Homo sapiens: one gene and its partner. The protein of the gene in region 2 interacts with the protein of the main gene of each other region in a pairwise test. Each region holds a gene or a part of one and is shown on either strand. Other genes may lie near its edges. The genes, in order: ECPAS and SPECC1L.

The links.
Region 1: the proteins of SPECC1L (region 2) and ECPAS interact in a two-hybrid assay, tested with the Homo sapiens proteins (one large-scale study listed by BioGRID).

What each region holds. Positions count from the first base shown.
Region 1 is NC_000009.12:111,365,757-111,369,581, forward strand, and holds part of ECPAS (proteasome adapter and scaffold protein ECM29), read right to left. Parts: intron 3,418-3,825; coding exon 3,279-3,417; intron 872-3,278; coding exon 766-871; intron 572-765; coding exon 483-571; intron 1-482. UniProt on the Homo sapiens protein: Adapter/scaffolding protein that binds to the 26S proteasome, motor proteins and other compartment specific proteins. May couple the proteasome to different compartments including endosome, endoplasmic reticulum and centrosome.
Region 2 is NC_000022.11:24,413,506-24,416,034, reverse strand, and holds part of SPECC1L (cytospin-A), read right to left. Parts: intron 1,502-2,529; coding exon 1,412-1,501; 3' UTR 1-1,411. UniProt on the Homo sapiens protein: Involved in cytokinesis and spindle organization. May play a role in actin cytoskeleton organization and microtubule stabilization and hence required for proper cell adhesion and migration.

The DNA of each region.
Region 1 (3,825 bases), on a different chromosome or scaffold from region 2:
CCATGTTTACTACCTAAAGTTGACAACTGTACCGTGGCACACTAAATAATTGAGGAACAAGGGGGCCTGAAGTAAGCAACATACTTTCAAATGGTTCAGGAGAAAAACATGTATATAGAAGTCCAAATGACAAAGCAAATGGCACAAAATGTTAACAAATGATTCTGCATAAAGTGTATACATATTGCAGAGTATTACATGTACTGTCGTTGCAACCATTCTGTAAGTTTGAAATTACTTTCAAGTAACAATTTTGTAAAAATACTTGTCACGAAGGTTTTTCTAAACTAGATGCTAAAATCCTGTTATAGTTCCAGATTTAAATATTCCAGTTAAGGGGTACACATGGAGTATAATAAGTAGCAGAGTCCAGTAGCTATTTCAGAAATTTAGTTCCTAAGACAAAGTAGGAAATATTTGAAGCTCAGCTCCTTAGCTTTAAAATTAGGACTCCCTCATCAGTTTTAGTTTACTACACTCACCTAAAGAATATGTGATTGATTTACAAGTTTCAAGCAGAATTTCAGCCAAAGCCTCAGGATCGGCATGTTCTTCTTCCAAAAGCATTAACCTATACAAATCAGAAAGCAAGGTACAAATGCCAATTATTAAGAAACAGTCTAAAACTTTCCTGTCACAATTTCTATCTGTATGTATCACTGTCACTTTAGCTACCAGTTTTTAAATGTATAAAAATTCCATTGATTATACATAAAATGCTGCGGGGAGGAACAAAATAAAAAACTGAGCCATGAAGCAATTTACCCCTGAAAAAAGGCATTCATTGATTGCAGGACTCCTAGCTGCACTTTCCACGTGCTGAGTTTTAGCCGTTCACACATCAGTTTGCACAGCTCCTGACGATAACAACCTGGGAAAAAAAGACAAGGTGGGACAGAGCAGGAGACAGTATAAAAGAACAAGAGATGGAATAAATGAGGGACAGGCAGAGAGAGCAAGAGAAAGGAAGAGGGAAAGAGAAAGAGAGAAGGTGGGGAGGATAAGAGAGAGAAAAGCAGGAAAAAGAGAAATAAAACAATAAATACTTTTAATTAAAGCCATTGAAATTTCCCCAAAAACTTCAGCATGACTTTGTACTCAATCCCCAAACAAATTTCCTTGATCAGAAACTGCCCCCACAAAGGTGCAATATAATTGTTCACAAATATTCACTTTCAAGGCATATGGTTCTCCATGGAACTGAGAAAGCACTTTAACCACACTCCCTTTGCCCCTCAAAACTCCCTGAATGACAGCCACAGAAAGAACTCTGGAGGCCAGAAGCTCCTCTCTAGATGCTCACAAGCTTCTGCAAATTGCAGGTTTACCAAGAGTCAACAGTGCTTTATTATAAACCTGTTATGCCAACTGCAACTGTAATTATAACTATATAATTAATATTATGCCAACTGATGAATCAGCAGAAAACTCAACAACGAAGTTATTTTTAATTACTGTAGGATTTAGTAGGGCTCAAACAAATGTAAAAATGGGGGGAGGCAATAAAAAATCTAGAATTCTGCACTAGGATTGTCTCATAAGAGCTTGAAATTTCTTTCTCTGTTTTAAAGAAACAAAACCCAGAAATTGTAGATATATATGAGAAGCCAATGTGTAACAGTTAAGTTCCTAAAGAAAAGGCCTTGGTTCTCAATAAATGCACATTTCTATTAACAACCTTCTATGTCTTATATTAAAATAAACTGCTTTATGTTTGTATCATCTTTCTCATATAATTCCCTACTTTAGCTTTCTCTACCTATCAAGGAAAAGTTAATACTCTTTATGGCATCATATTAGTGGACTTCCATGGCAGTCTATAACATAATATTAAGAAATAAAACCACCTGCAAATTTGTATCTTCTGGGAAACCCTTCCTATAAACATAGCAAATATATAAGTTCACACAAAGGATGACAGGGCTCAAAGAGAACCTTAACTGATTCTAGACATATCCAATCACAAATAATCAACAGTACTTTTTATAACATTCAATAATATTGTCGCTGGGCATGGAGGCTCATACCTATAATCCCAGCACTTTGAGAGGGAGGCCAAAGTGGGAGGATCACTTGAGCCCAGGAGTTTGAGACCAACCTGGGCAACATAGCAAGACCTCACCTCTTCAAAAAAAATTTGCTGGGTGTCGTGGCATGCACTTGTAGACCCAAATACTTGGGAGGCTGAGGCAGGAAGATCACTTGAGCCCAGGAGGTAAAGGCTGCAAGAACTGCACCACTGCACTCCAGCCTGGGCAACAAAGCAAGACCCTGTCTCAAAAAAAAAACAAACAAAAAAAAAACGAATACTAAGATCTTCAGCAGGATGCACTGTAGGACCCAACACAAGGCAAGCTTAAAGGGTAGCATCATCACTTCTTGGCCTTTTGGCTAAGATCAAGTGTAAAGGGTAGTATCATCCCAAGGTTAAGGCCCTGTCAGGGGACTCCAAACTAACTGCAACCTCATCCAATAATAGAGGTTTACTGTTCATTTAATCTTTGGGAAATACATGTCCAGTTCTGAAAATTGTCCAAATAGTAATGAGTTTTTCACTGAAACAGGGATTTCAGTTGCTTACTGAACACTTGGTAACAAGACCATTCATTTCAGGATAAAGAGACCCTGCTAATAAACTTTGTGCATTCCTCTGAATAGAGCTATGATCATCAAGAAGATCAGTAGAACTCGTCTATCAAACTATCTGCATAAAATGTATCATGGTTATTATAGGTGGAACTGTGCCCCCAAAATTCGTATGTTAAAATACTATCCCCCAGTACCTCAGAATTTGACTGTATTATTATTAAATAGAAGACAGAGCCTTTAAAGAGGTCATATGAGTGGGCCCTAATCCAGCGTGCCTGGTGTCCTTATAGGAAGAGGTGATTAGGGCACAGAGACACCAAAGACCACGTGAAGACACAGGGAGAAGACAGCCATTCCCAAGCCAAGGAGAGAGGTCTCAGGAGAAACTAACCCTGCTGACGCCTTGATCTCGAAATCTCAGACTTCTATCCTCCAGAATTGTGAGAAAATAAATTTCTGCTAAGCCACCCAGTCTGTGATACTTTCTTACAGCAGCCCTAGCTACAGCGGTACAATGATCAGTGAGATCACAGACTCATGTAGACAAAAAACTTTCACTGGATAATTCTCATTATTAATCAATCAGGCTCGATAAGAAACAATAACTATAATTTGTCATAGAGAAAATTCTTCGCTCTCATTAAGTAACCTCTGGTTACAGCACTTCAAATGCAGTTTCTGGTGCTTACGTTGGGTCTCCGCGTTTCGCGGCCAGGCTTTGCCCAGGCTTTCAAAGGCACCCAGCAGATATTCCAGCTGGAGCTCCTTTTCCTTTTCATTCTCCTCTTCATTTTTGGTTGTCCGGACCCCACTGCTTTCAAGTGAGTTCTAGGATATATCAAAGAAAAGAAAATGTAATATTTTCTTCTTCAAAGTTACAGGTATACTATTAAAGCTATCAGGGTACCAACCAAGGCAGGAGATATTAACCAAGAGTTAAATGATAAATTCTCTACCATAAGTTTCCCTATTTACAACAAGAATTTATAACCAGAATACTGTATCTCTAATAAATTTAGGCAATACTTTACAGGCATCTGTAAACAAAAGCTAAAAAATACTGCATATGTAGTCTTTTGAGCATAACATGAAAAGACTTGCATTAGAATCAGATTTTAAAGATGGAAGAAACTCAGTAATGATCTAAATCCAAACTCTTTCTTGATAGAGAAACAGAGGCTAAGAGAAGCAACTGGTCCAGCTTGCTAGTGATGTAATCAACTTAAAACACAAGTC
Region 2 (2,529 bases):
ACCCCGCTTCCACTGGTGGCTGGTCTTCCTCATGGTGCTATGCAGGTGCCAAACACAGTTATATTCTCAAAGGTACAGGTCTTGTCTGGACATTGTTCAAACCAATAGCTACTGCGTTAGGCACACGGGAGATCCCTATTCCCAAAAATAGCTGTTGAGTTCTGGCCTGAGAGCATCTCCAGTGACCACCTTTAAATAAGGCTTTGGTTCAAACAGCATGGACCCAGCACCTGGGGAGGGTGGGCACAGGGGGCATGGACCCAGTACCTGGGGAGGGCGGGCATGGTGGTAGGAGACAACTCAACCACTGAGTCTTGGAGGTCCTGCCTTGGCCACGGAGGGCAGTGGCTGCCCTCACAAGAAGAGTTAAGGCACTTTCTTTAACTCTGGCCTAGGAGAATTATGTCTTAGTGACTCAGTGAGTTTAAATGACACTGCCTGGGCTCCCTAAAGTTGTTTACTTTTCTCCTATTTCCTGCTTTATTCCTTGCTCTCACCATGCTAATGTACAGATGTTGTTTAGATTTCTATGCTTATTGAAACAATGTAACTTTGGTACTAACAGAACAGGAGCGACCTTTTCCAGCATTGCTCGTAACAAAACAAAAATGTTAACTAGAAAAACTCCTTATGATGAAGAAATCTAAAGCCAGAGCTGGGACTCCAAACCCCTTCCAGGCTGGAAGACAGGTCGCTGAGTCCAGGCAAGGGGCCCCCGTAACTGCTTCCCGCCAGAAAGCCCAGCCGCGTGAGTGCAGCAGCAGCACCCCAGCCCTGGCGTGCCCGCACCACGCCCTCTAGATACTCTCCTAGCTCAGGCTGAACACGCCTGGATTGTGTCGGCCGGGACAGCCCCGTCAGGTGTGGGGCAGCTGACCCACGTCTGTGGTGAACATGCTCCTCCAAACTAGGACGGTGAAGGGCCCAGGGCGCTGGGAACTGCCAGGCGCTGACTCTCCTTCTGGGTTCTCACCAGCACCGGAACCCACCCCAGCCAATAGTCAGGAAGTGCCGCGGCCGAGCCTTCATCAACCCTAGTGAGTTTCCCACAGAACTGAATCCCTTTTCCCAAATTCAGCTGTGCATGAGCCCTTTTTGTTTGGTGCCCTGGAGCACTAGTGTAGTTCAATATTCTCTTCAGAAGGAAAACTCCAGCAGCCACCGGCCTGCAGGATGTGTGCTGAGCCCACATGACCTGAATGGACGGGTCATGTGGGAGGGGCCCTGGTGGGAGCTGTGGGCCACACGGCTGAGTTCTTCCAATACGGAAGCCCCGAGCTGGAGGCTCACACGCTGTGGGGCAGCCCAGAGTTGCTGGAAGCTTTACAGGGGTGCGTAGCTAATGGCGTCGGTGTCGCTCGGTCGCTGTGGAGGGGTACCCCCGCTATTGGGGCGGCTCCTCCCGGCATGCTCAGGTCTCAAAGTACTTGTAGATCGCCGTCACATACAGCATCACGTTCTGCCAGTCGGGTCGTTCAGTCCGTACCATTTCATTAATGTCCTGACAGACAAGGAAGACGCTTGGTTAGAACTGCAGGTCACCTCCAGGCTGTGCCAATGGGCTCTGCCATAGCAACATGGGCTCTTGGAGTTGGATGGGGCCTTGAAATATTTTCTAGGCCTAATTACACATTTTTAAAGCCTGGCCAAGAATGCTTCCTCCCTGGGCATCAGCATCGTCCCCAGGCCATCCACCCCTGCCCCAGAGCCACAGGCAAGGTGCCTCCCTGCTCACGGCTCTGCAGGATGGGAAGGGTTTCATCCAGTCTGGGCGGAGGAACTTCCTCCCTCCTCCCCGCGCCTGCCTCTCTTCTTAAACCACTCCTTGGGGGACCCTTCTGAGAGCCCTTCTCAGCCCCAGGCACTGGCCTAGGAGAATTTCTCTCTGTCGGGGGCTCCCAGAACCAACACTCTGACGGCCTTCACCATGGGCAACAGTCTGAAATCATCCAAGACTCTGCTCTGTAACTGTGCTCTGCTGAACGCCAGTGACCTGTGACCGGTGAACTGATGTTCTAGGAAAATAAACTTGGGAAACCGTGGACCCACCCCCACCTCACTCCAGTGTCTCACAGCCTTTAACACGAGACAGAAGGCCTCAAAAAGTGACACACTGCTGCTGCTGAAGGCTCGGGGAGTGACCCAAGGGGCCGGCCTGAGAGATCCTTCCCTTCCCATGGGTGACGAGCACAGGACGTGTGGCTGAGCACGCAGGATCAGGAGGGCGCCCTTGGTGACTTGATGCAGAAAACGAAAACCTGCCTGTTCAATGCAAGAATCTTGACTATAGAAGCTTTTGAGGGTGGGAAAAAGGCCTGCTTTTTTTATATATTGGAACTTTACACGTGTTGTAAAATATCCAGGAATGGGGGAATATTTAACTTATTTTTCCCTGTACAGGTGAACAGAGGCCACCCTAAAAAATGCACATTTCTAGGGATTTAGATGCACCTGTGGCATGAAGACTCTAATGAGTGAACATGGGCGTAAACACTTCTTCACAGCACCTCCAGCTGCTACAAGTTAGGC